Linked DNA regions of Homo sapiens. Changing the gene in region 1 together with any one later gene gives a genetic interaction. Each region holds a gene or a part of one and is shown in the gene's direction. Other genes may lie near its edges. The genes, in order: XPO1, KRAS, GNL2, RIT1, FDPS, EIF3C and EGFR.

Region 1 (4,119 bases):
AGTATTTAGATCTTAAGGTTTTTTTGTGGTGTGTAACAAGTATTCTGCTGTTTAAAAACGTTTGTTTAATGCCTACTACGAAACGTTTTGAAGTCTCATCAGTTTTGTCAATAATGGACCAATTCTTGAACTCCTAATTTCTTGAGTTTTACATTATTTTTACATCATATCAATCATAGGTGACTCATCTTTTGGAGTTCTAATCTGTTGTAACAGACGTTATATTTAAATAAGACAATTGCATTAAAATAGAATTTGCTGCCATTATTGTTATGGACATTTTTAAGCTGTTATAAAATAGCCAGGAATTAATGACTTTTTTTCCGCCCTGCCAAGCTAGTTTGTCTAAATATAATGTAAAGAAATTAGCTACTCATTTTCTGGTCCACGAAAGTTCCTAAAATGGGAAGAAGTGGAGATCTGACCTTGTTAGTTCTAAATACACTAAACTGGGAGTGCCATGGATGGCTTTCAGGATGTCCTGAATCCTCTATAATTGTATACAAAATCGTGAGTTTTTAAAAACTGGGTTAGAGCTATTGGTTCCTCAGAGTCTCAGGCATCTTAGACCCCCAAAAAGGTTAAGGACTACTGACTTAACCAATTAGGTTTGAGTGGCATTGGCTTTGAAGAAAAGCAGAGGAAAGATATATTTTATAATTCTGGGCAACAAAAAAGTGGATGTGTGCCAGCATCTTAGAGTAGAATCCTCTTAAAAGGATAGCACTGCATATGAACTAGTAGGTTTTAACCAGTGCATATTTAGGCGAAGTAGCTCATTTTTCTGTTAGAATTCTTTTTTATTTGGGAATGGGCAAGCTTTTACAGCTTTTACCTTGCCAATGAATACCTGGAATTTAAAAAATCTTGTTAGGCATATTGCCCATAAAGTTTTTTTTCCTAGATCATATATTCAGTAAATATGTTTGTAGCTTTATTTCAATCCCCCAATTCATTGAGGGTTGAAACAATTTGAATGGTTTGAGTGTAGAAGCTAAGTTATTTCTGTAGAGGCTAAGGGCATTTATACCAAGATATGTTAGACTTGTGGTTCCTGCTAACCATTGCTGTAGACAATAGGAATTACTGTATATCCACATTTTAATTTTTAACATCATTCTGTCTTTGTTTGTTTGTTTTTGAGATGGAGTCTCATTCTCTTGCCCAGGCTAGAGTGTGGTGGTGCATCTCGGCTTACTGCAAACTCCGTCTCCTGGGTTCAAGCAGTTCTCCTGCCTCAGCTTCCCAAGTAGCTGGGATTACAGGTGCCCGCCTCCATGCCTGGCTGATTTTTGTATTTTTAGTAGAGACGGGGTTTTGCCATGTTGGCCAGGCTGGTCTGGAACTCCTGACCTCAAGTGATTCGCCCACCTCGGCCTCCCAAAGTGCTGGGATTACAGGTGTGAGCCACCACGCTCGGCCCATTCTGTCTTTATAGCATTATTTTTATAAAGTTAAGATAATGTGAAGTGAGCTTTTACTGAGTTATTCAGAAGACCCTACTTGGGAAGAAAAGAAAATCACATTCACTTGAACTTAATCCTACTTGCTTAAAAAGTTTTGACATCAAGATACTGAACTGTATCACGTTTTAGGACCATAAAATCCTAATAGTGGATGCGTTTAAATAATAGGTTAGCATACTTTATAAATGTTAGTAGAATAGGAAAGTCTTCCTGGTGTATAAACTAAACACTAGAAAAGTTGAATGGACCATAATAATTTATGTAATTATCAAATAGCTAAGTAATTTCAGCTTTTGTTACTTGCTTTTACTATCTCAGTTTTCTGTAATTAAAGTCTCTAAAGTATTCATTAAAATATTTGTAATAACATGGTTGAAGTAAAATAACTTGTAGGAAGTTTTTGATAATACCAAAACTTGATAGGCAGCTTCAATTTTTTTTCTTTATTTTCAGTAATCTATGCCAGCAATTATGACAATGTTAGCAGACCATGCAGCTCGTCAGCTGCTTGATTTCAGCCAAAAACTGGATATCAACTTATTAGATAATGTGGTGAATTGCTTATACCATGGAGAAGGAGCCCAGGTAAAGTAGCCAACCAAAACTTTATAACATTATGACAGTGTAACAGAGTTGTTGGGTTTAGAATAAAATTTTAAATTATCACCTTTAAAAAAGATATTCCATAGTTTGCATTAATTTGGAATTCTGTATTAACCATAATGAAAATTGGTTTGGAGAAAGAAATTGCATGTTTGACATGGTTAGAGTGGGTTGTTTTGGAATATTATACTTGTTTTGTCCTTAAGAGCCAAATGTTATTAAATACTTTGTAGGTATTAAAGGTTCTCTGTACTTTTATATATACTTAATATGTTTGGCACTAATACGATTCTTCTACTTTTAAAACATTTACAGAAGTACTTCACAGATATGTTTGTTTAAATAAAAACAGGAATACCAAGTATTTTTATGTTAGTTGAATTTTGTGCACTTTTCAAAGTGGTACTGTTAATGTAGGGAATTATCTTAAACATAAACCAAATTTTGATCAGTTTAAGATTTTTGGTTTTTTTGAACCCAACTAAAAGGTGAAACAGAAATGTGTGTACAATTTTAAATTGTATATGTCACAAGAAAAAAAACTTGATTTTTTACCTGTGGGGCCAAACTTTTTTTTGAGACAGTCTCGCTCTGTGGTCCAGGCAGGAGTGCAGTGGCGCTATCTCAGCTCACTGCAACCCCTGCCTCCTGGGTTCAAGCGATTGTCTTGCCTCAGCCTCCCTGGTAGCTGGGATTACAGGCACACGCCACCATGCCTGGCTAATTTTTGTATTTTTAGTAGAGATGGGGTTTCACCGTGTTGGCCAGGCTGGTCTTGGAACTCCTGACCTCAGGTGATCCACCTGACTCGGCCTCCCAAAGTGCTGGGATTACAGGCATGAGCCACCGCGTGCTGGCCCAAACATGTTTTTGAATGAGTAAAAAGTTTTGCAGTTGGGTCAGAAATCTTTTTTTTTTTTCAGATGGAGTCTTGCTCTGTCACCAGGCCTGAGTGCAGTGGCACAGTCTCGGCTCACTGCAACCTCTGCCTCCCAGGTTTTCAAGCAATTCACCTGCCTTAGCCTCCCGAGTAGCTGGGACTACAGACGCGCCACCATGCCCAGCTAATTTTTTGTATTTTAGTAGAGATGGGTTTCATCATATTGGCCAGGATGGTCTCCATCTCCTGACCTCGTGATCCGCCTGCCTTGGCCTCCCAAAGTGTGGAGATGACAGGCATGAGCCACCGCGCCTGGCCAGAAATCTTTTATGGTAGTTTTGTTGCCAGAACAGTAGATTTCTGGTTAGATAAATGTTCAGCTAGTAGATGGGAGGTTACTTATATTGTCAAGATATTTATATTTGCATAATTAAGAAACTGAGTGCCGGCCGGGCGCGGTGGCTCACGCCTGTAATCCCAGCACTTTGAGAGGCCGACGCCGGCGGATGACGAGGTCAGGAGATCGAGACCATCCTGGCTAACACGGTGAAACCCCGTCTCTACTAAAAACACAAAAAATTAGCCAGGCGTGGTGGCGGGCGCCTGTAGTCCCAGCTACTCGGGAGGCTGAGGCAGGAGAATGGCGTGAACCCGGGAGGCGGAGCTTGCAGTGAGCCGAGGTTGCGCCACTGCACTCCAGCCTGGGCAACGGCATGAGACTTCGTCTCAAAAATAAAAATAAATAAATAAAATAAAATAAAAAAACCTAAACCTGAGTGCCATTACACTTTCTGAAAATATATAAGGTGGATACAGTACTATCTTTTATAGTAGTCCAAAAAGCATCATGTATAAATGTTTCCATTCCCTTATGAAATGCAACAGTACTGCTTTTACTATAGTAGAAACTTGAAAAAGGTCCATGGAAACGCTAAAAGTAGAAAAAATTACTCTTGCAGTGATTCTGTAAGCTTGTTAGCCCAGGTTTATACTTTTAGGGCGTTTTGATCAGTATATTATCTCCTAAAGCATTCTTGAAAAAATTAACCATCCGTATTTATTATCCCTGTCATTTAGTTGTTACTCATGCTATACATTCAACATGAAGCTTTAAGCTTCATTTCTTCTAGCATGGATGCATAGAAAGCAGCTGCTTTTGGAGGAAGCTAT
Region 2 (4,119 bases), on another chromosome or scaffold:
TCTTTTTTGGGACAGAGTTTTGCTGTTGTTGCCCAGGCTGGAGTGCAATGGCACAATCTCAGCTCACCGTAACCTCCACCTCCCGGGTTCAAGTGATTCTCCTGCCTCAGCCTCCCGAGTAGCTGGGATTACAGTCATGCACCACCAGGCCCAGGTAATTTTGTATGTTTAGTAGAGATGGGGTTTCTCCGTGTTGGTCAGGCTGATCTCAAACTCCCGACCTCAGGTGATCTGCCCACCTTGGCCTCCCAAAGTGCTGGGATTACAGACATGAGCCATCGCACCCGGCCAAGATAAATGTCTTTTAAATTATCTCCATTAAAGACATAACCTTTATAACATTTTGATGTATATATTACCAGTTTTTAAACACATAGTAGATTTGTATAAATACATAAACACATATTATTGTGATCATGCTGCACTTAGACATCTTTATATTCTCCTTATACTGTAAACATTTTGAAATACTTTACTAACAACATTTGTAATGACCATTCTTTCTCTCTTTCTCCCTCTGATAGAATGGTCTACAGAGTAATTCATAAACTAAACATACTTTAGAGGCTGGGCGCAGTGGCTCATGCCTGTAATCCCAGCACTTTGAGAGGCTGAGGCGTGCAGATCACGAGGTCAGGAGTTAGAGACCAGCCTGACTAACATGGTGAAACCCCATCTCTACTAAAAAAACAGTACAAAAATTAGCCGGGCGTGGTGGCGTGCACCTAGAATCCCAGCTACTCAAGAGGCTGAGGCAGGAGAATCACTCGAGCCCAGGAGGCAGAGGTTGTAGTGAGCCGAGATTGCACCACAGCACTCCAGCCTGGGCGACAGAGCGAGACTCCATCTCAAAAAAAAAAAAAAAAGATACATTAATACTATAGCCTACATGTGGAACATTAAGAAAATAATTGCTTTTATGTTTATGCTTTATACCTGTTGTTAGCCCTGCTTCTTATTTCATGATTTCATGGCTTCACATTGTAACATCCCTTTACCATATTTTTTGAGGACTGTTTTGGCAGAATGTGTGAAATCTTGAGCAGAAGTATTACCCAAAAGTCAGAAGAAAATCAGATTTTTATTTCAAGATTCTGTTAAAGTTACCCACTCCCTTCTTTTACTTAATCTTATAGTTGCAGTTCTCTCTCTTTTTAGAAAAGAAAAAAGAGGCCCCTCAGGATTTGCAGATGAAACAATATTGCTCTTTAGAGATATCCATCTGGCTGTTAGATTATTTTTCCACAGTTTTCAGAAGTGGATGAGGCCATTAGAATCTTGAGTATTGCCCATTTCCTTATGTGTGCCTTTGACTATAGATAAAATAGATGCATGACAATTATTTATAAGTTGATTGATTTTTCTTGTCATTTAAATCATCTTGAATAATAGAGTTGGTAGAGCTATCCCATTTTTGAAATTATTTTGTTTTGTCAATAACTTTTTGTTACCAGCATGTACACTTGCATTGTTGACTCTCCATATAATACCTTTAAAAAATTTTTTTTTGTGGTAAAATATGCATAACATAAAGTTTACCATGGTAGTTTTCTTTCATTTGTTTTGTTTTTGTTTTTTTGAGACGGAGCCTTGCTCTGTTGCCAGGCTGGAGTGCAGTGGAGCGATCTTGGCTCACTGCAACCTCCGCCTCCCGGGTTCAAGCAATTCCCCTGCCTCAGCCTCCTGAGTAGCTGGGACTACAGGCGCCCGCCACCACGCCCGGCTAATATTTTGTATTTTAATAGAGATGGGGTTTCACCATGTTGGCCAGGATGTTCTTGATCTCCTGACCTCATGATCCGCCCACCTCGGCCTCCCAAAGTGTTGGGATTGCAAGTGTGAGCCACCGCGCCTAGACCATGGTAGTTAATTTTAAGTGTTCAATTCAGTGACCTTAAGTGTGTTCATAATGTTGTGCAACCATCACCATGTTGTCTAACCATTAGCACTATCTGTTTTGAGAACTTTTTTTTATCATCCCAAATTAGAATTCTGTACCTGTCAAATAGTCCCCAGTAATCCTCCCTCCCCCAGCCCCTGGTAATCTGTAGTCTACTTTTCGTCTTTTTGAATTTGCCTATTTTAGGTTCCTCATATAAGTGGAATTATGTGGTATTTGTCCTTTTGTGTTGGCTTACTTCATTTAGCATAATGTTTTCAAGGTTCATCTGTGTTGTAGCATGTATATACAGGTTGAAGCATCCGTTATCCAAAATGGTTGTGACCAGAAGTGGTTTGGATTTCAGATTTTTTTTTTGGATTTTGGAATATTCATAGATACTTAACTGGTTCAGCATCCCTCGTCCAAAAATCCAAAATCAGATGGAGCTCAGTGGCTCATGCTTGTAATCCCAACACGTTGGGTGGCCAAGGCAGGAGGATCGCTTGAGCCCAGGAGTTCAACCAGCCTGAGCAACACAAGACCCTATCTCTCCAAAAAAAAAAAAAAAAAAAAAAAGATGAAAGAAAAAAAAATCCAAAATCAAATGCTCCAGTGAGCATTTCCTTTTAGCATCATGTCAGGCTCTAAAAGTTACAGGTTTTGGAGCATTTTGGATTTCAGATTTTTGGATTAACCTGCATTAATGCTCAACCTATATGAAATTTTATTCCTTTTTATGGCTGAATAATGTTCCACTGTATGTATATACTACATTTTGTTTATCCATTCATCTGTTAACAGACACTTAAGTTATTTCCACATTTTGGGTATTATAAATAGTGCTGCTGCGAACATTGGTGTACATGTATCTGTTTGAGTCCCTGTTTTTAGTTATTTTGGTTATATACCTAGGAATGGAATTGCTGATCATATGGTAATTCTGTGTTTAACTTTTTGAGGAACTACCACTGTTTTCCACAATGGCATCACCATTTTACATTCCCACCAGCAATGCACAAAGATTTCAGTGTCTGTATCCTTGCTAACACTTATTTTCCATTTTTTGAGTTTTTTTGTTTTGTTTTTTTAATAATAGCCAATCCTAATGGGTATGTGGTAGCATCTCATGGTTTTGATTTTATTTTCCTGACTATTGATGATGTTGAGCATCTTTTCAGGTGCTTAGTGGCCATTTGTCCGTCATCTTTGGAGCAGGAACAATGTCTTTTCAAGTCCTTTGCCCATTTTTAAATTGAATTTTTTGTTGTTGAGTTGTATATAACACCTTTTTTGAAGTAAAAGGTGCACTGTAATAATCCAGACTGTGTTTCTCCCTTCTCAGGATTCCTACAGGAAGCAAGTAGTAATTGATGGAGAAACCTGTCTCTTGGATATTCTCGACACAGCAGGTCAAGAGGAGTACAGTGCAATGAGGGACCAGTACATGAGGACTGGGGAGGGCTTTCTTTGTGTATTTGCCATAAATAATACTAAATCATTTGAAGATATTCACCATTATAGGTGGGTTTAAATTGAATATAATAAGCTGACATTAAGGAGTAATTATAGTTTTTATTTTTTGAGTCTTTGCTAATGCCATGCATATAATATTTAATAAAAATTTTTAAATAATGTTTATGAGGTAGGTAATATCCCTGTTTTATAAATGAAGTTCTTGGGGGATTAGAGCAGTGGAGTAACTTGCTCCAGACTGCATCGGTAGTGGTGGTGCTGGGATTGAAACCTAGGCCTGTTTGACTCCACAGCCTTCTGTACTCTTGACTATTCTACAAAAGCAAGACTTTAAACTTTTTAGATACATCATTAAAAAAGAAAACCATAAAAAAGAATATGAAAAGATGATTTGAGATGGTGTCACTTTAACAGTCTTAAAAGCAATCGTGTGTATAGCATAGAATTGCTTGGATTGGATAAACAGTGGCATTATATATTTTAAAAAATAAAAGTTTTGAAAGATTGAAGAATTTGGGCATTACAGTTCTCTTAAATCTGACAAAGCTGCATAAAACTATTAAAATAATCATTATTATACTATTTTATATTCTATTTCTTTGAGGGTTTAGTTTTCCAAAAACTACATATTAAGCAAATGAATCACTCAGTGGCTATGTCATATAATAACGAGTTAGCCTAGTTATAAGAAGTTTAACATTTTATTTAAGAACATTGTTACAGCATGTTTACTGTATAGTCTAGTAATAGAGGAAAAGACATTT
Region 3 (3,430 bases), on another chromosome or scaffold:
CCTCTGAGGCAGTGGCACTTCAGCAGAGCCCTTAATATGAGACAGGAGCCATGCTAGTATCTAGGGAGAATGTTCCAGGCAAGGGGAACAGCACATCCAGAGCAGCTGGGGCAGGAGTATGCTCTGTGTGTCCTGATGCTGAAAGGAGGTCACTGTGGCTGGAATGTCGTGGGCCAGGAGAGGGTGTCATGGTGGGAAGCCATTGGAGGTTTTGAGTTAGCAGCTGGATTCTAGGGTCATTCTGGATGTCCGTATCACTGCTGTCTTGGGACCCTGTGTGGAAACACTGGCATTGTCTTCAGCCCTTCCTCCGTATGTAGTCAGTAAGTGTAGATAAGTAGTTCAGATAATTCTTAAGAACTATTGTAACCATAATAGATTTGTTGCCCAATGCACACAGCAAGTCAATATGCTGAGACACCACCAGGTTGCAGCAGAGAAAGAAGTTTAACCGTAGGGTCACCAAAGGAGGAGATGGGAGGAATCCTGAAATCATTTCCACGAGGAGTTTGGGGTTAGGGTTTTAAGGGTTTTGGAGTGGGCTGGAGTGAGGGTCATTGGTTGGGTGAAGAGTGCAGGGTGAAGTCACGGACAGGGAGATGAAGAAGCTGTGTTCTCATGCAGATCCCGTTTCTCTGGGGATCTTCAAACTGGTTGCTGGAATTAGGGATCTGAAAAGACATTTTAAGCAATCCTTAAACAAAAACCTTATGATTCTAATGTCAGAGATCTTGCCTATAGGAACAATGGGGGTGCATATCAATTCTTACATAGTCTTATGACCCAAATGTCAGAAATCCTATCTATAGGGACAGTGGGGATGCAAATGGTCAGTACCTAGTGTTCAGGAACTTTTAGCAACAAGGATATGGGCCAAAGTGCCCCCTAATTAGTGCTTAATTATAATTGTATTTCTGTCCAGAACTTGGCAGATACTTCTTGTCAACCCTTTGGAGGCAGTTTCACTCTCATATGCCTTACTCTGTGATTCTGTTTTTCTTTTTTGGTTAAGAGCAGAAACCCCTTCAGAAACTGAAAGCCAAAAATTGCCCTTCCTAGAAAAATGTATGTATAAATTTTGTGTGTGGTTTCCTGAATTTTATAGTTCTGTACTTATTTAGTGATTTGCCCGGCCACTCTTGACTTTAGAACATCACTTTTAAGTTCTCTGAGTTTTTGTTGCAAGGATAAAATGATATTATACATGTGAAACACCAGTAGAAAGCTTGGCACATACTTATCTTTGCGGTTACCTAAAACAGGCCAGTCATTTCAGGGTCCCCAGACTTAGTTCTCTAATGAACTCTCTTCAATCACAGAATTCCCCCTCCTTACCTTATACTCTTGCTTCAGGATGCCTCCTATCTTAGTCTGTTTTGTGATGATGCAACAGAATACTACAGATTGGGTAATTATAATGAACAGAAATTGTTTTGGCTCATGTTTCTGGAGGCTGGGAAGTCCAGTATCAAGGCACCAGCATCTGACAAGGGTCATCCCATCGTGGAAAGTGGGAGGACAAGAGCAAGCAAGAGAGGGTCAAACTTGCTTTTATAACAAACTCACTCTTTTTTTTTTTTTTTTTGAGACGGAGTCTTGCTCTGTTGCCCAGGCTGGAGTGCAGTGGCACGATCTCGGCTCATTGCAACCTCTGCTTCCTGGGTTCAAGTGATTCTCCTGCCTCAGCCTCCTGAGTAGCTGGGACTACAGGCATATGCCACCAGGCCCAGCTAATTTTTGTATTTTTAGTAGAGATGGGGTTTCACCATGTTGGCCAAGCTGGTCTTGAACTCCTGACCTTGTGATCTGCCCACCTTGGCCTCCCAAAGTGCTGGGATTACAGACGTGAGCCACCACATCCGGCCAACAGACTCACTCTTAAAAACGAACCCATCCCCGAGATCCATTAGTCCATTCATGGGGATGGAGCCCTCATGATCTAATTACCTCTTATTAGGCCTTACCTACCAACACTTGCTGCATTGGGGATTAAGTTTCTGTATCAGTCCATTTTCATACTGCTATGAAGAAATACATGAGACTGGTTAGTTTATAAAGAAAAAGAGGTTTAATGGACTCACAGTTCCACATGGCTGGGGAGGTTTCACAATCATGGCGGAAGGTGAAGGAGGAACAAAGGCATGTCTTACATGGCATCAGGCAAGAGTGTGTGTCCAGGGAAACTGCCCTTTATAAAACCATCAGCTCTCGTGAGACTTAATTCATCATAGGAGCGGCATGGGAAAGACCTGCCCCCATAATTCAATTACCTCCCACCCGGTCCTTCCCACAACACATGGGGATTATGGGAGCTACAAATCAAGATGAGATTTGGACACAGCCAAACCATACCAGTTTCCAACATATGAATTTTGGGGGACACATTTAAATCAGAGGACCTCCTCAAATGCCTCTCTTAGTACTGTTCTCATCTGTAACATCCAGCCTGGCCTTCATTTTTATGTAGTTGTGTGTGCTGATTTTGCATGTGCTTATATCAGCAGCCCCCTAGGGAAGGTCTAGGGAGCCTTGCTTTTCTATGATAAATCATTGGTTGGTTTTAATGGTTTAAATAGTCTTAGTTGGTTCATCCTGTGGAACTACACATGTATTCCTTTGATCCTAGTACTGATCTCTGGGCTTAATGTACATTGGTTTAAAAATACATTAATGAAATGACTCAAATTTGGGTGTTTTCAATACCTTCCCTTAGTCCTGAGAAGAGGACTGTTTAAGAGCAAGATATGAGTTCAGAAATTCCATTTTTCATTTTCTGATTCTATTTATTTCCCCCATTTCCACCCCTTAATAGCTTCTACCCTCCTCATCTTTGGAAGTTGTCCCAGAAGCAGCCCAGAACAATCCAGGGGAGGAAGTCACAGAAACTGCAGGTGAAGGGTCAGAATCCATCATTAAGGAAGAAACAGAAGAGAACAGTCACTGTGATGCTAACACAGAGATGCAGCAGATTCTCACACGAGTTCGGCAGAACTTTGGTAAAATCAACGTGGTGCCTCAGTTTTCTGGGGATGACCTGGTTCCTGTGGAGGTGTCAGATCTTGAGGAAGAGCTTGAGAGCTTTTCTGATGAAGAGGAGGAGGAACAGGAGCAACAAAGAGATGATGCGGAAGAGTCTTCCTCGGAGCCTGAGGAGGAAAATGTGGGAAACGACACCAAAGCCGTTATTAAAGCACTGGATGAGAAGATTGCCAAATATCAGAAGTTTCTAGACAAAGCCAAAGCCAAAAAGTTTTCAGCAGTCAGGTAATATTTTCATCTTCTCACAAATTGCAGATTTTCATTCCTTTCCCAAAAATTTGCCATGAGTACCAGAGCCATATTTTTACATGGGGTTATTGCCATTTGTTTGTTCGGTTGGGTTTTTTGTTTGTTTGTTTTTTGAGACGGCGTCTCGCTATGTTGCCTAGAC
Region 4 (3,500 bases), on another chromosome or scaffold:
TCCGGCATTTATGACTTTATAGTACACCTTTCTTCCCTCCTGTAGAAGATGCTTATAAGATCAGGATCCGTATTGATGATGAGCCTGCCAATCTGGACATTTTGGATACAGCTGGACAGGTATTAAATCCCAGAATGTTATGAGTAAAGGCTTTTTTACTCTAGCAAAGGGGAGGGGAAGGCCTACACAGAGAAGATCAATAGTTTATCTCTCTTAATTTTTCATGCACTCTGACTCAGGATAGCAGGTAATCGACATGCGTTTTCTTTAATCTGAAAGAAATAGCTAATTGTGTGTGTAGTTGGGCTAGATTGCGTCAATACATAATGACCCTTGTTTCCCTCTAGGCAGAGTTTACAGCCATGCGGGACCAGTATATGAGGGCAGGAGAAGGGTTTATCATCTGTTACTCTATCACGGATCGTCGAAGTTTCCATGAAGTTCGTGAGTTTAAACAGCTTATTTATCGAGTCCGACGTACTGACGATACACCTGTGGTTCTTGTGGGAAACAAGTCAGACCTCAAACAGCTAAGACAGGTGAGGATAGAGAAGAAAATACTGTCTATAATCTTATACAATTAGTCATTTTTGTTTCTTGGCTTACAGATTCTTGGCTTGGCTTACAGATTTTTTTGCCTTAAAATAGAAAATCAGGCTGGGTGAGGTGGCTCACACCAGTACTTTGCGGGGCCAAGGTGGGCAGGTTGCTTAAGGTCAGGAGTTTGAGACCAGCCTGAGCAACATGGCGAAACCCCATCTCTACAAAAAATACAAAAAAACATAGCTGGGCATAGTGGTGCATGCACATGTGGTCCCAGCTAGTTGGGAGGCTGAGGTGGGAGGATCCCTTGACCTGGGGAGGTGGAGGTTGCAGTGAGGTTGGGGCTACAGCTTACTGCAGCCTCTACCTCCCCAGCTCAAGCAATCATCCCAGTTCAGCTTTGAGGGTAGCTGGGACCACAGGCGTGTGCCACCACTCCCAGCTAATTGTTTTTACTTTTTGTGGAGACAGGATCTCACTATGTTGCCCAGGCTGATCTTGAACACCTGGACTCAAGTGATCCTCCTGCCTTGGCCTCCCAAAGTGTTGGGATTACAAGTGTGAGCCACAGCGCCTGGCTGGAAGTAGTTTGATAGTAGTCAAATTCATAATGCTTCTCTGTTAATCTCCATTGGAAAAAATTTATAGGGATTTATATATAACATGTTCATTGCAAGACTATTTATGGTAGAAGAAAATGAGAAACAATCTAGCTGTCCAAAAGTAGAAATTATGGCATATCCATAATTAGATGTATCAATTATGGGCTCCTAATAGTTTTCAATATTTTAGTGTAAGCATATATCTCTTTCCCTCCCTTTGTGTTTCTTTCTTTTTTTTTTTTTTTTTTTTTTGAGACAGAGTCTCACTCTGTTGCCTTGGCTGGAGTGCAGTGGCACAATCTCGGCTCACTGCAACCTCCTCCTCCTGGGTTCAAGTGAGTCTCCTGCCTTAGCCTCCTGAGTAGCTGGGATTACAGGCGCATGCCACCACGCCCGGCTAATTTTTTTTTGAGACGGAGTCTTGTCTGTCGCCCAGGCTGGCGTGCAGTGGCACGATCTCTGCTCACTGCAAGCTCTGCCTCCCAGGTTCATGCCATTCTTCTGCCTCAGCCTCCCGAGTAGCTGGGACTACAGGTGTCCGCCACCATGCCTGGCTAATTTTTTGTATTTTTAGTGAGATGGGGTTTCACCGTGTTAGCCAGGATGGTCTCGATCTCCTGACCTCGTGATCAGCCTGCCTCGGCCTCCCAAAGTGCTGGGATTACAGGCATGAGCCACCGCGCCCGGCCTAATTTTTGTATTTTTAAGTAGAGACGGGGTTTCACCATGTTGGTCAGGCTGGTCTCAAACTCCTGACCTCATGATCTTCCCACCTCGGCCTCCCAAAGTGCTGGGATTACAGGCGTGAGCCACCGCGCCCAGCTTTCTTTTTTTTTAATTTTTATTTTAATTTTGTTGTTTTGAGACAGAGTCTCACTCTGTTGCCCAGGCTGGAGTGCAGTGGCGCAATCTAGGCTCACTGCAACCTCTCTGACTCCTGAGTTCAAGCGATTCTCCTGCCTCAGCCTCCTGAGTAGCTAGGATTACATGTGCCTGCCACCACATCCAGCTAATTTTTGTATTTTAGTAGAGACGGGGTTTCACCATGTTGGCCGGGCTGGTCTTGAAGTCCTGACATCAGGTGATCCACCTACCTTGGCCTCCCAAAGTGCTGGGATTATAGATGTGAGCCACCACACCCAGCGTTTTTTTGTTTTGTGTTGTTTTTTAGACAGAGTTTCACTCTTATCACCCAGGCTGGAGTGCAGTGGCATGATGTTGGCTCACTGCAACCTCTGCCTCCTGGGTTCAAGCAATTCTCCTGCCTCAGCCTCCCAAGTAGCTGGGATTACAGGCGCCTGCCACCATGCCCAGCTAATTTTTCTTTTCTTTTTTTTTTTTTTGATATAAAAGCATTTTTAAACTTTATTATTAATACTCAGGACATTAGGAATTTCCAGATTTTTTTCAGTAGCATTTGTAGAACCACTTTTGGTAACAAATACAGTAGTTAGGAATATGCATCCAGTTCAGAATGCATAATAATGTTTCTCCTGAATCCTTTCCGGCTAAAAACAGGGCTGGCACTGTGATGAGATATAGAACGAGAATCTACAAAAAACACTGTAACATGTTTGTTTTTTCCCAGAGGCTACATCCTCTTTTGCTGGAATACTTTATAAATACATATTAAAAAGTAAGGCAACAACTCCAAACAGTCCAAGCTGTTTGCTCAACTCTTTTCCCAATTAGATTTGCAATCCCGGTGATCAGTTTCATGGTTGTATTGTTTAGTGTTTCTTTCTTATTTTAGTAGAGATGGGGTTTCACCGTGTTGGCCATGCTGGTCTTGAACTCCTGACCTCAGGTGATCTGCCTGCCTGCTTCAGCCTCCCAAAGTGCTGGGATTACAGGCATGAGCCACCGCACCCAACTTTTTTTTTTCTTGAGACAGGGTCTTGCTCTGTCACTGAGGCTGGAGTGCAGTGGCGCAAACATGGCTTACCGCAGCCTTGACCTCCTGGGCTCAAGTGATCCTCTTACCTTAGCCTCCTGAGTAGCTGGGACCACAGGTGTATACCACCACATCCAACTAATTTTTTTTTCTTTTTTTGAGACAGAGTCTGGCTCTGTCACCCAGGCTGGAGTGTGACACCTGGAGTGCAGTGCCGCGATCTTGGCTCACTGTAACCTCCGCCTCCCAGGTTTAAGCGATTCTCCTGCCTCAGCCTCACGAGTAACTGGGATTACAGGTGCCCAACACCATGCCCAGCTAGTTTTTTTTAAGTGGAGACAGGGTTTTGCCATGTTGACCAGGTTGGTCTCGAACCCCAGACCTCAAGTGATCCACCTGCCTCAGCCTCCCAAAGTGTTGGGATTACAGGCGTGAGCCACCGCTCCTGGCCCCAGCTAAAT
Region 5 (4,119 bases), on another chromosome or scaffold:
ATAACAGGTGTGAGCCACTGTGCCTGGCCTGGGTTTTTTTTTTTTTTTTAATTTCCCTAATAAATAGAAAGTGCTGGTGGGGTTAAGAATCAGTGCTAGGAGGCAGAGGAAATTTGGGGAGGCCATGGAATTAATTATCTTGGAGACCATCATGGTTGAGTGGTGGTGGCTGAAACAAGATTGTCCTTGCAGTCACCCTTGGGAGAGGCAGTGAATGGGTGGCTTCAGGGAAACCATGCTACTCCAAATAAACACAGAGTCAATTAAACATGTGCCTTTGATGTGGAAAGCCCAGGACCTCCACACTACTCTTCTGAGTTTAGGTCAGAGGTAAAGATGCAGATGGATGCCTCCTTCCCTGAGGACCCTGCCTATAACAGCAGTGATTGCAACGGTCCTTTCCCCACGGCCCATGCTGGGCTCTGGCAGGCGGTGTTGCATGCTTCCTTTGCAATGTGGATCCACTACAGCACACAGGATTAGGATGGGATAAAGTCTTAAAAACCATGTCTTCTAGGCCAAGTGTAGTGGCTCATGCCTGTAATCCCAGCACTTTGGGAGGCTGAGGCAGGTGGATCACCTGAGGTCAGGAGTTCGAGACCAGCCTGACCAACATGGGGAAACCCCATCTCTACTGAAAATACAAAATTAGGCTGGGCGCAGTGGCTCATGCCTGTAATCCCAGCACTTTGGGAGGCTGAGGCGGGCGGATCATGAAGTCAGGAGATCGAGACCATCCTGGCTAACATGGTGAAACCCCGTCTCTACTAAGAATACAAAAAAAATATTAGCCGGGCATGGTGGCAGGCGCCTGTAGTCCCAGCTATTTGGGAGGCTGAGGTAGGAGAATGGCGTGAACCTGGGAGGCGGAGCTTGCAGTGAGCTGAGATTGTGCCACTGCACTCCAGCCTGGGCAACAAGAGCGAGACTCTGTCTCAAAAAAAAACAAAAAACAAAAAACAAAAAAAAAATTAGCCAGGCGTGGAGGCACATGCCTATAATCCCAGCTACTCAGGAGGCTGAGGCAGGAAAATCGCTTGAACCCGGGAGGCGGAGGTTGCAGTGAGCCAAGATCGCGCTATTGCACTCCAGCCTGGGCAACAAGAGCGAAACTCCATCTCAAAAAAAAAAAAACACACAAACCATGTCTTCTGCTCAAGCCTGGGTGACAGAGTGAGATCCTGTCTCAAAAGAAAATAATAATAAAAATTAAAACCTGGGTATAGGGCCGGGTGCATTGGCTCACACTTAAAATCCCAGCACTTTGGGAGGCCAAGGTGGATGGATCACGTGAGGTCAGGAGTTCGAGACCAGCCTGACCAACATGGTGAAACCTTGTCTCTACTAAAAACACAAAAATTAGCCGGGTGTGATGGCACGTGCCTGTAATCCCAGCTACTTGGGAGGCTGAGGCAGGAGAATCGCGTGAACCCGGGAGGCGGAGGTTGCAGTGAGCCGAGATTGCGCCATTGCACTCCAGCCTGGACAATGAGAGTGAAACTCCATCTCAAAAACAAAAACCTGGGTATGTATCTAGAAGTGGAAAAACAAAAAAAGGAAATAAGTTATGAAAATAAAAACCATGTCTTGAGCTGGGTGCGCTGGTGTGTGCCTATATCCCTAGATTCTCAAGAGTTGAGACAGGAGGATCACTTGAGCCCAGGAGTTCAAGTCCAACTTGGGCAACATGACAAGACCCTTGTCTCTTTAAAAAAGCAACCCAAACCATGTCTTGAAAAGCTATTTAATGGTCAGACACGATGGCTCACGCCTGTAATCCCAGCACTTTGGGAGGCCGAGGCAGGCGGATCACTTGAGGTCAGGAGTTCAAGACCAGCCTGGCCAACATGGCAAAACCCAGTCTCTACTGAATGAAAATACAAAAATTAGCTGGCCTAGCAGTTGGTGGTGGCAGGTGCCTGTAGTCCCAGCTACTTGGGAGGCTGAGGCAGGAGAATCGCTTGAATTTGGGAGGCGGAGGTTACAGTGAACCCACATGGCGCCACTGCACTCCAGCTTGGGTGATAGAGTGAGACTCTATCTCAAAAAAAAAAAAAAAGAAAAGCTATTTAAGGAACCAAAACATAGTTTGACTGACTGCAAGAAGTATCACAGGGAATGTTAGAGTGTTTTATTAATTTCTTTGTCAGACAAGTGTTTAGGAAACTCTCACTCCAGGCCTAATGCTGTGCTAGGCTCTGCAAATGCTAAGAGGGGGAAGTTACTGTCCCTGCTTCCAAGGAGATCATGGTCTAGTGGGAAACCCGACACGTTCAGGTACCTTCAGATGGGCACTCAGAAGAGTAAGCCCTTAGTTAATGTTTAAAGATGTTTAAAGATGTCTGAGACTCATAGGTCAAAGTCAGATTTCAGTTCCACCTTATTAGACCTGCACTGCTAAGGAGCTGCTTTAGGTAAGGCTGTGTTCCTAGTCACCAGGGTGTTCAAACACAGTGCTGGGGGCAATGTGGGAATAGCCTTCTTTTATTTAGGAAGTAATGTGAAGTCAGTTTCATGAATAGATCTTACTTTAAGCATTCATTGAGGTTTTTGGCAAGAATAGAGTACGGTATATGAAGGTGTTTCCTAATCTCCCTGACACCAGGAATAATCTAGGGCTCATTAGAGATGTCAAAGATCTGTTCTAGTTTCTTAACCTAAAACAAGAGTGTTTTAGTTCCATTTTATAGGCGGGGAGTCTGAGCCAAACATGTTATGTCACTTTCCAAGTCTCCATAGCACAGAAGTCTTCTGTCTCCCCATCCTGACTTTCCCAGCTCATAGGGACTGTCAAAGGCAGCAGCTCTGGCCGGCTGTGATGCCTCATGCCTGTAATCCCAGTAATTTGGGAGGCTGAGGCAGGAGGATCATTTGAACCCAGGGGTTCAAAACCAGCCTGAGCAACATAGTGGGACCCTGTCTCTACAAAAAATAAATTAAAAAAAAAAAATAGCCAGGCATGGGGTATGTGCCTATGGTCTCAGGAACTCAGGAAGCTGAAGTGGGAGGATCACTTGAGCCTGGGAGTTAGAGGCTACAGTGAGCTGTGACTGCACCACTGCACTGGATAATAGTGAGACTCTGTCCCCTACCAAAAAAAAGCAAAACTATATACAGATATAAAGTAGCAGCTCTGTTGCTGATAGAAGGAACAGTAATGAGGAGCCCTGCAGGTCTTATTCCACTCTTTCTAGCTGCAAGCTTTCTTCCTGGTGGCAGATGACATCATGGATTCATCCCTTACCCGCCGGGGACAGATCTGCTGGTATCAGAAGGTAATGTGGGCAGGAAAATAGCAGTGGGTATGGGGACAGGCCACAGGGAGGTGGTTATATATGGCCTGGTTGAGGTGTTGGGGTGATGGCTCTTAGTATGAACCGAGACTAGAGATTGATTGCTTGTTTTTCTGTCTGTCATGACAGCCGGGCGTGGGTTTGGATGCCATCAATGATGCTAACCTCCTGGAAGCATGTATCTACCGCCTGCTGAAGCTCTATTGCCGGGAGCAGCCCTATTACCTGAACCTGATCGAGCTCTTCCTGCAGGTGTATTGCAGACAGGGCCCGATGCCCAGAGGGTGCCCATGGTAGCCTTGGCCTCTATAGGACATGCTCATCTAGCTGGTTTCAGGGTACAGGATTGCAGCGTGCCTGGAAGGGAAAGAAAGCGAGGAAGGGTGTTGGGAAGTGGGGTTGTGGTAGTGGCAAGAAAGGGCTTCTCTGTCCTGTGTAATTGGAAGAAAGGGTGATAAAGGACTGTGTGTATGAATATGGGCCTTAAGTTTTGGGGCTTTCTCCCCTTCTGTTGCCTTTCTGATTCTGCCCAGTTGTCAGCTGGTATGGGATGTTGGGCTTGGGATACCAGGGTTTCGCATATCTGGAGAAAGCCTGGCTCATGGACCGTCTTTGTCTTGCTTAGAGTTCCTATCAGACTGAGATTGGGCAGACCCTGGACCTCCTCACAGCCCCCCAGGGCAATGTGGATCTTGTCAGATTCACTGAAAAGAGGTGAGGGGAGGTGAGGGACAGCGCGAACCATGTCTGGACAGCGAGGGAGGGCTCAGGATGTGCATTGCCCTCCTGAGGAGTTTCTCTTCTCCCCTTACTCAGGTACAAATCT
Region 6 (4,625 bases), on another chromosome or scaffold:
TACTTGGGAGGCTGAGGCAGGAGAATTGCTTGAAACTGGGAGGCGGAGGTTGAAGTGAGCCAAGATCATACCATTGCACTCCAGCCTGGGCAACAAGAGCAAAACTCCATCTCAAAAAAAAAAAAAAAAAAGATATTTATGGATTTACAGACGTACAATGAACCCCTTGGTTTTTTTTTTTAACTTTTTTTTTTTGGAGACAGAGTCTTGCTCTGTCGCTCAGGCTGGAGTGCAGTGGCACGATCTTGGCTCACTGCAACCTCCACCTTCAGGGTTCAAGCAATTCTCCTGCCTCAGCCTCCTGAGTAGCTGGAATTACAGGCATCTGCCACCATGCCAGGCGAATTTTTGTATTTTTAGTAGAGATGGGGTTTCACCATGTTGGCCAGGCTGGTCTCGAATTCCTGACCTCAAGTGATCTGCCCACCTCTGCCTCCCAAAGTGTTGGGATTACAGGCATGAACCACCATGCCCAGCCTCATATTAAGTTTTGACGGTGCTGGGTGGGTTGTGAGTACATAGATGTCCATTGGAATAGTCTTTATTCTTGTCTGTTGAAATATTTCACAATAAAAAACAAAACGGCCAGGTGTGGTAGCTCATGCCTATAATCCCAGCACTTTGGAAGAGCATGCTCTTCCCTTCCCAGCACTTCCCTGTCCCGCTCCCATATCAAAACCACCTTGAAAAATGTAACACAGTCCCTTGCACTAAAACCTCTGCCGATGGCGGCTCCAAACCACAGGCCTATAAAGACCTGCAAGATCTAGCATCGTCTACTTTTTTTTTTTTTTTTTTTTTTTTTGAGACAGAGTCTTGCTCTGTCACCCAGGCTGGAATGCAGTGGTGTGATCTCTGCTCACTGCAATCTCTTCCTCCTGGGTTCAAGTGATTCTCCAGCCTCAGCCTCCCACGTAGCTGGGATTACAGGCAGGTGACACTGTGCCAGGCTAATTTTCGTATTTTTTAGTAGACACGGGGTTTTGCCATATTGGCCAGGCTGGTCTCGAACTCCTGACCTCAGGTGATCCACCCACCTCAGCCTCCCAGAGTGTTGGAATTACAGGAGTGAGCCACTGTGCCTGGCTAGCATTGTCTACTTTTTTTTTTTTGAGATGGAGTTTCGCTTTTGTTGTCCAGGCTGGAGTCCAGTGGCTCGATCTCGGCTCACCACAACCTCCGCCTCCCGGGTTCAAGCGATTCTCCTGCCTCAGCCTCCCGAGTAGCTTGGCTTACAGGCATGCACCACCACGCCTGGCTAATTTTGTATTTTTAGTAGAGATGGGGTTTCTCCATATTGGTCAGGCTGGTCTCGAACTCCCGACCTCGGGTAATCCGCCTGCCTCGGTCTCCCAAAGTGCTAGGATTACAGGCGTGAGTGAGCCACCGCACCCGGCAGGATTATCTACTTCTATACTATTAATGCCTATTAATGCTGTAATTACACGCGTGAGCCACTGCGCCCCGCCGATCTTCGTGTTTTAAATCCCGACACCAACGCGCGGTAGGATTCGCGACGCCTGCAGCCAAGGTCTCAGCGCCCGGTTCCCTCAGGCTTGTCCCCGCCCCCTTATGGCGCGAAGGCCACTGGGAGTTGTAGTCTCCCAGTGTAGTTAGTCGGCGCTTCCCGGAAGTGACGCGAGGACCCGCCTTCTCTCTCGGCGTTTCCGCTGTCAGGGCCCTGCGGTGTGACTCGCGGGCTCAGCTGGTTGGTATTTTTTGGGCCTCGTGCTTCGTGGTGGGAGACCCAGGTCGAGGTCCGGGTGGGGCCGGTGAGGGGTTGGGCGTCGGGAGGTGTTGGCTCGGGCCTCTTCGCGTGGCCGGTGACGCCTTGGCTCCCCCGCAGGTCCGGCCGTAGCACCTCCGCGCCGTCGCCATGTCGCGGTTTTTCACCACCGGTTCGGACAGCGAGTCCGAGTCGTCCTTGTCCGGGGAGGAGCTCGTCACCAAACCTGTCGGAGGCAACTATGGCAAACAGTGAGTTGCGGGGGCTGTGGCTGTGACCATTCTGGGAGTGCGGGGTTAGGCAGGCTGTGGAACGCAGTGCACATGGGAGGGGATGGAGGTGAGGGCGGGGAGAGTGGGTTTGGACAATGACCAGAGTTTGCAGGATCGGAGCGGTGTTGGAGAGAGACAGCCTTAGAGGGCTGTGATAGCCGGTAGCCACCCACCAGGCACAAGGGATAGAATCACAGAGGTTTCCCAAGCCAGATCTGTTGCATCAGCTTCTTAACTGGCCTTAAGTCTACAGCCTCTACCTGTCTCCTCTCATTTTACCGCCGAGAAGTCCTTAGTGACTTCTCACTGCTCACAGAAGGAAATGCAAAATGCTTGATTGGTATCTGGGAGCCCCCTGATGCGACTCTGAAGTCTGGTCACCTGCTGTGTACGCAGGTGCTTAAACATTTTCTATGCCTGTTCACTTCTACGTAAATACCCATCCGCCATTTCTGTACATTAATTTTTTTTTTTTTACCCTTTGGAACAATAGAATGGTTTTTCTTTTTCCTTTTTTTTTTCTTTTTTTGAGGGGTCATAGCTCACTGCTGCCTCGACCTTCAGATCTCAAGCGATCCTCCCACCTCAGCCTCTCAAGTAGATGGGACTACAGGTGCACGCCATCGCAGCAGGCTAATTGTTTTTAATTTTTTGTAGAGAAGGTGTCTCACTGTGTTGCTTAGACTGGTTCTGAACTCCTGGGCTCAAGTGAACCTCCCGCCCAGCATTCTAAAGTGTTGGGGTTACAGGAATGAGCCACTGTGCCCCACTGGAATGGTGTTTCTTAAACATCTGCCACGTTTGTGCTACTGTTTTAAAAGTATGTATTGCACATGTATATGCCAATATGCATATGGTTTCGTATCACTTCCACAGGTGGAAACCAGTGTCATTTGCCATAAAATACCAAATAATCCAGGCTGGGCAGGTGGCTCAAGCCGGTAATCCCAGCACTTTGGGAGGCTGATTACTTGAGGTCAAGAGTTTGAGACCAGCATGGCCAATAAGGTGAAACCCCGTCTCTACTAAAAATACAAAAATTAGCCGGTTGTGGTGGCACATGCCTGTAACCCCAGCAACTTAGGAGGCTGAGGCAGGAGAATCTCTTGAACCTTGGAGGCGGAGGTTGTAGTGAGCCGAGATTGCGCCATTGCACTCCAGCCTGGGCGATAAAAGCAAAACTCCACCTCAAAAAACACCGCTAAAATAATCCAAAAAATAATAAAAAGGGAAAAGAGGCAGGCAAGATGGTGCATGCCTGTAGTCCCAACTACTCTGGAGGCTGAGGTGGGAGGATCCCTTGAAACTCAGGAGTTGGAGGCTGCCTGGGCAACATAGTGAGACCTTATCTCTTAACAAACAAAAAGAGTAGAGATACTGTTGCTGACTGTGAGCCTGTGGTCTGGTCTTATTATCGTAGAAAAATACTAGCAGTGGAGGTGTTAATACCATTGAGACTTTCTCCTTGCTGTTGGCCTCTCATACTTTGGGAAATGTTGCTAAGATCTAGTTTAGGTACCACCTCCCTAAAGCCTTTTCTGTTCATTATAGCTCAAGTATCATTTTTCTCTACCTCTTTTTTTATTCATTACTTCTGTGGTGACTTGTGTCTCTATGTCATTAGTTACACAGTAAATTAGCACTTTCATTTGTTTTTGAGAGGATAGTGAATGTCATCTTTGTGTTGCTACAACACTGAGCAAAAGGCCTTACTTAGTGTACACTTAAAAGATTGAGTTGTATATGAAGTGGCCCTGAGGAGGAGTCAAAAAGAGGATGGGTGTGGTGTGGATGGCCTGGATTACTTAGTTCTACCTGTCCTGAGTAGGGAAATACGGATCTCTTGGAAAGACTGGGAAAGGAGGTTAATGGCCTCTGTTCCTTCCAAACAGGCCATTGTTGCTGAGCGAGGATGAAGAAGATACCAAGAGAGTTGTCCGCAGTGCCAAGGACAAGAGGTAAAGCCATGGCGAGGCTGGGTGATGGGAGTCTCTGGGAGCAATGAAGCTGTGGGGAGGCTGGGTGATAGGAGTCTCTGGGAGCAGTGGTGAGTTTTCCCTCGGTGGGCACGTTCAATGTGGTATCGGGCTCCCAACCCAGGTTTGAGGAGCTGACCAACCTTATCCGGACCATCCGTAATGCCATGAAGATTCGTGATGTCACCAAGTGCCTGGAAGAGTTTGAGCTCCTGGGAAAAGCATATGGGAAGGCCAAAAGCATTGTGGACAAAGAAGGTGTCCCCCGGTTCTATATCCGCATCCTGGCTGACCTAGAGGACTATCTTAATGAGGTGTGATGCCTATATTTATTACCACCACTTATTCATGGTTTTGTACTTTTAGTGGTGGGATGTATAGGATCTTTTAAAAATAAGCTAACAGATGTAGTTAATAAGTAGTACCAGTGGTGTTCCAATAGCAAGACTCAAAAGTGGAGAAGAAGCCTGGAGTTTAGGAAATGTTACTTAGTTTCAAATCACTGTTCTCTGTTTCTTTCCTCTTCTTCCCTTTAGCTTTGGGAAGATAAGGAAGGGAAGAAGAAGATGAACAAGAACAATGCCAAGGCTCTGAGCACCTTGCGTCAGAAGATCCGAAAATACAACCGTGATTTCGAGTCCCATATCACAA
Region 7 (4,119 bases), on another chromosome or scaffold:
GTCTTTCACGGCCTTGACACTTACAAAACGTGTGGGTCAGGTACTTTGCACACTGTCTAACCATGTCTGTTCAGCTGGTGTTTTCTCAGGATGCAATTGAGGTTATGCACATCTTATCACAGGGACCAGAGAGACTTTTTAGCACCACTCTTCAAGAATTTCCACTTTTTCAGCTTTGACAGTGGAATAGACATGCAGGTGCTCACACACAAGCATCTTTAATATGGTAATGGTAATCATCAGTTTAGTGGTGTGGAGGAGGAGATGGGAATCTCTTAGTGAAACCCGCCTTGGAAGCAGCCTCGTTATGAGAACTGCTGCCCCTACTTGACTCTTAAAGCACTAGATAATACTGTGCAACATTAAAGAGAATAAGAGTGCGTGAAATATGCATTGCCTCCCATAAACTCCCTTGGCTCTGAATCTCTGATACTAAATATGTGGCTACCGTTGCTTCCCAGAAAGGCCTTTTTGCTCTGAATTCTCTGGAATGCTTTCTTTGACCAAGATTCTTATAAAAATAAGAGATTTAGAGCAATTTTCTTGGATGGCTGGTATGAGCCAGTTGGCTTAGTTGTAGGGATTTAAACAAGATAAGGGTTACTTACTTTTCACATTTAATGAGAAGTCTGGTGATTCCAGCTCCTACTGAGACAGGGTGGCCACACGTTCCAGGGTGTGACTCACTGAGGCCCCAGACCTGCCCTGCAAGGAAAACCTGGCTCTGCCCTGGTGTCCTGGCCTCCCTGGGCATATGTGGGGGAGAATTCCTAATGGTATTGGTTACAGGCTCCTATGCGAGACCACTCATCTGTGTAGGAGAAAGGAAAAAGATGGGGGAAAGAAGAGCAGCAGGGAGAGGAGAAGCCTCTGGATGATACTCTAACCCCCTGCCATCCAACACCTGAACATCAGTCTCTTCATCCAGTGCTCTCAGCTGGCCCAGCCCCCAGCCTGGGGTCAGATGAGAGCTTCCTGCAAATGCAGATCTCTTTCCTGTGGCTCCTTCTCAATTACAGACAGCTCCTCCACAAGGTGCACTCTGGCCTTGTGCTCCCTCCCCAAACCAGCCCAGCCCTCCCAGCCTGCATCATCGTGGTCCTGTAGGGGCTAGAGGTTCTCACACCCATCGTGGTCTGGCAGAGGCTGGTGGTTCTCACACCCATCGTGGTCCGGCAGGGGCTTAGTGGTTCTTATACCCATCGTGGTTCAGGAGGGGCTAGTGGTTCTCACACCCATCGTGGTCTGGCTGGGGCTAGTGGTTCTCATGTCCACCGCGTGCTTTCCTGCTCCTCCAGGTGGCTGAGGACATCCCCCCTTCGGTCTGAATGACTTCCATCCAGTCATCTGATATACACATTGGACCACCCAATAGCATCCTAGTGTCATGTTGGATGGTGAAGAAAATGCCACAGTTACTGCTTTCAGGGCCTCACAACCTTGGGCATAGCTTTTTGGAGGAAGGCCCCACTTCCCAGGCATCCCTCCCAGACCTGGTCAGAGGCCCCTGCTCTTTGCTTCCATGTTGCCCACACTCACTGTGCTCTTCACACCGGCTCAAAATGATCTGCTTACGGGGTTGTGTCACCACCAGATCAAGCGTCCTGGAGAGGAGGAAACATATTTAACCTGCACAGAATTTGGGACAGAGAACCTCTAGTGTTTGTTCAATAAATATATGAATGGATAGAGGGACAGGTTGGGTGGTGGATAGATGGATGAACCCACACCTTTGAAGTGTATTTGGCTGTTTGAGAGGTTAGAATATGTTCTCAATTTCCAGGCAAAATGAAAATGGAGAAAATATAATGACATTAAGGCATTTTATTCATCCTCCCCATCTGCCACTGGGTTAAAGATACTAAATAAACAAGGAACTATCTTTTGCCTGGAGGAACTTTAAAAACACCTGCAGTTTTCAAAAGGTGCAGTGTGTGCCTCCCACAGCATGACCTACCATCATTGGAAAGCAGTTTGTAGTCAATCAAAGGTGGTCTGGAGAAACAAAGTTTTCAGGGATACATTGTTTTTATAATTTTTCACCACATGATTTTTCTTCTCTCCAATGTAGTGGTCAGTTTTCTCTTGCAGTCGTCAGCCTGAACATAACATCCTTGGGATTACGCTCCCTCAAGGAGATAAGTGATGGAGATGTGATAATTTCAGGAAACAAAAATTTGTGCTATGCAAATACAATAAACTGGAAAAAACTGTTTGGGACCTCCGGTCAGAAAACCAAAATTATAAGCAACAGAGGTGAAAACAGCTGCAGTAAGTCACCGCTTTCTGTTTAGTTTATGGAGTTGGTTCTAATGGGTCCTTTATTTGTATTTAGAATATTGAAGGGCTATTCCCATTTAAATTACTTTTTTCAGTTCCTTAAGAAGCAAATTAAAATCTTAAGATTCCTAACTGTGAAATTACCATGTGAATTCCATTAAAACTTTTTCCAGATCATTACCATTCAATGGGATGAATTTACCCTGAGGTTTAGGCTACCAATTATTTGTAATGTAAGTAACTAAATTTAGTATTAGTTATATTACCTTTTAGTTGTAGGTCACTCTCTGCTCATTTCAGCCTGTAAAGACTACAGCTACACACATACACACACAGAGGAATGGAATGAGCACTTTACATCAACACTTCCTGTTCTGGCTCTAGAGCCTCAGCTTTTGAAGCTGGTGAGAGCCTGGCCTGTGCTGGGCCTTGGCCACGGGCAGCGTCAGCTTTGAGTCAAGTGCTGGTCTGGCCTCCCTAGCTTTGAGCCTCTGTCAATTCCCTTAATCTGTTTAGGCTTTGGCTTCCTCATCCATAGAATGGAGATATGAATGATTCCTACGCCGTAGTGCTTTGAGAGAATTCAGTGAAATTCCTGTGTGTAAAACCCTTCCATGGTGCCTAGCACACAGCACACAGCCAATGGCCCAATGGCTCCTATCAGCTGTGGGATTTGTCATCAGAACACCACCAGCTCTGCTCCAGGCTGCCCTGGGTACCATCAAAACACACCCTGTGCCCAGCAGCACCTGCTCCTCTGCACACCTGGTTCCTTCAGCAGGGGCAGTGGCCGTGGGAGCACAGAAAACATGGAGTCCCATCTGGTTTAATTGATGCCATTGCCAAAGGGGAGGACTCACGGCACCCCCTCTCGGGTGCCAGGGTGCCTGGCTCCCACCAGGAGGAAGACCTGTCCTCCACTGTCAGGCACATTTCAGTCTTCCCAGCAGCCAGCACAACTACTTTGTCCTTCCAGTCACGGTCGGCCTCTGGGAAGCCCAGTCTGTGTCCTCCTCCTTCAGGGGTAGCCAGCATGTCTGTGTCACCCAAGGTCATGGAGCACAGGGCCCCTCCCGGGAAGGTGCCGTCTCCTCCGGCCCCTCGGGTCCCTGCTCTGTCACTGACTGCTGTGACCCACTCTGTCTCCGCAGAGGCCACAGGCCAGGTCTGCCATGCCTTGTGCTCCCCCGAGGGCTGCTGGGGCCCGGAGCCCAGGGACTGCGTCTCTTGCCGGAATGTCAGCCGAGGCAGGGAATGCGTGGACAAGTGCAACCTTCTGGAGGGGTAGGAGGTTATTTCTTTAATCCCCTTGCGTTGATCAAAAATAAGGCTCCAGGTTGTTGTTATAGCTTTACAGGCATTCTGTTTGATTTTCTCTTCCTTTTATTCTTTGCCCTTGGCTTTTGGAGGTTTTGGGTTTTCTGTGGGGAGACGGGAAGTTGTTTGATTGCGTTATTTTTGGCAAATTTAAGCACAATAGGAAATAAGCAAGTATTATTGCCTAATATAATCCAATAATTTATAGAATCTCTTTTCCTGGAAGTATCTTAAATTTTTCTAAGCTACAAAAAGTTCCTAAGACAAATGAGACAGTCATCAATGGTTCATCTAGCCAACACCGTGGCCATTTGGGCTTTTCTTTGTAGTGCCCGATTCCTGGTGTGTGAAAATAAATTAACACAAATTATATTGCCAAGTTAATATCTGTTTTATGTGCCCCCAGCATGTGTTGAACATCAAACAGTACCAGGGACTTTAAATATACCCACGGACAAAGAAATAATTCATAATGATGTTTGTTGAATTTAGTTGCAATCAATAAAAAGTGCAGTTTGTGAA

Evidence for each region.
Region 2: changes in XPO1 (region 1) and KRAS are lethal when combined (synthetic lethality), as found in Homo sapiens cells (2 studies listed by BioGRID, with this or other methods).
Region 3: changes in XPO1 (region 1) and GNL2 together harm fitness less than expected from each alone (positive genetic interaction), as found in Homo sapiens cells (one large-scale study listed by BioGRID).
Region 4: changes in XPO1 (region 1) and RIT1 together harm fitness more than expected from each alone (negative genetic interaction), as found in Homo sapiens cells (one large-scale study listed by BioGRID).
Region 5: changes in XPO1 (region 1) and FDPS together harm fitness more than expected from each alone (negative genetic interaction), as found in Homo sapiens cells (one large-scale study listed by BioGRID).
Region 6: changes in XPO1 (region 1) and EIF3C together harm fitness more than expected from each alone (negative genetic interaction), as found in Homo sapiens cells (one large-scale study listed by BioGRID).
Region 7: changes in XPO1 (region 1) and EGFR together harm fitness more than expected from each alone (negative genetic interaction), as found in Homo sapiens cells (one large-scale study listed by BioGRID).

Annotation. Positions count from the first base shown.
Region 1 is NC_000002.12:61,531,704-61,535,822, reverse strand, and holds part of XPO1 (exportin-1), read left to right. Parts: intron 1-1,144; exon of another isoform or gene 1,145-1,400; intron 1,401-1,919; 5' UTR 1,920-1,925; coding exon 1,926-2,051; intron 2,052-4,119. UniProt on the Homo sapiens protein: Mediates the nuclear export of cellular proteins (cargos) bearing a leucine-rich nuclear export signal (NES) and of RNAs.
Region 2 is NC_000012.12:25,226,518-25,230,636, reverse strand, and holds part of KRAS (GTPase KRas), read left to right. Parts: intron 1-3,224; coding exon 3,225-3,403; intron 3,404-4,119. UniProt on the Homo sapiens protein: Ras proteins bind GDP/GTP and possess intrinsic GTPase activity. Plays an important role in the regulation of cell proliferation.
Region 3 is NC_000001.11:37,568,685-37,572,114, reverse strand, and holds part of GNL2 (nucleolar GTP-binding protein 2), read left to right. Parts: intron 1-2,812; coding exon 2,813-3,264; intron 3,265-3,430. UniProt on the Homo sapiens protein: GTPase that associates with pre-60S ribosomal subunits in the nucleolus and is required for their nuclear export and maturation.
Region 4 is NC_000001.11:155,901,350-155,904,849, reverse strand, and holds part of RIT1 (GTP-binding protein Rit1), read left to right. Parts: intron 1-45; coding exon 46-119; intron 120-347; coding exon 348-539; intron 540-3,500.
Region 5 is NC_000001.11:155,314,747-155,318,865, forward strand, and holds part of FDPS (farnesyl pyrophosphate synthase), read left to right. Parts: intron 1-2,107; exon of another isoform or gene 2,108-3,194; coding exon 3,195-3,275; intron 3,276-3,422; coding exon 3,423-3,545; exon of another isoform or gene 3,546-3,650; intron 3,651-3,918; coding exon 3,919-4,007; intron 4,008-4,109; coding exon 4,110-4,119. UniProt on the Homo sapiens protein: Key enzyme in isoprenoid biosynthesis which catalyzes the formation of farnesyl diphosphate (FPP), a precursor for several classes of essential metabolites including sterols, dolichols, carotenoids, and ubiquinones.
Region 6 is NC_000016.10:28,709,811-28,714,435, forward strand, and holds the start of EIF3C (eukaryotic translation initiation factor 3 subunit C), read left to right. Parts: upstream 1-1,653; 5' UTR 1,654-1,708; exon of another isoform or gene 1,709-1,846; 5' UTR 1,847-1,876; coding exon 1,877-1,977; intron 1,978-3,890; coding exon 3,891-3,956; intron 3,957-4,098; coding exon 4,099-4,288; intron 4,289-4,510; coding exon 4,511-4,625. UniProt on the Homo sapiens protein: Component of the eukaryotic translation initiation factor 3 (eIF-3) complex, which is required for several steps in the initiation of protein synthesis.
Region 7 is NC_000007.14:55,158,068-55,162,186, forward strand, and holds part of EGFR (epidermal growth factor receptor isoform a precursor), read left to right. Parts: intron 1-2,071; coding exon 2,072-2,271; intron 2,272-3,431; coding exon 3,432-3,564; intron 3,565-4,119. UniProt on the Homo sapiens protein: Receptor tyrosine kinase binding ligands of the EGF family and activating several signaling cascades to convert extracellular cues into appropriate cellular responses.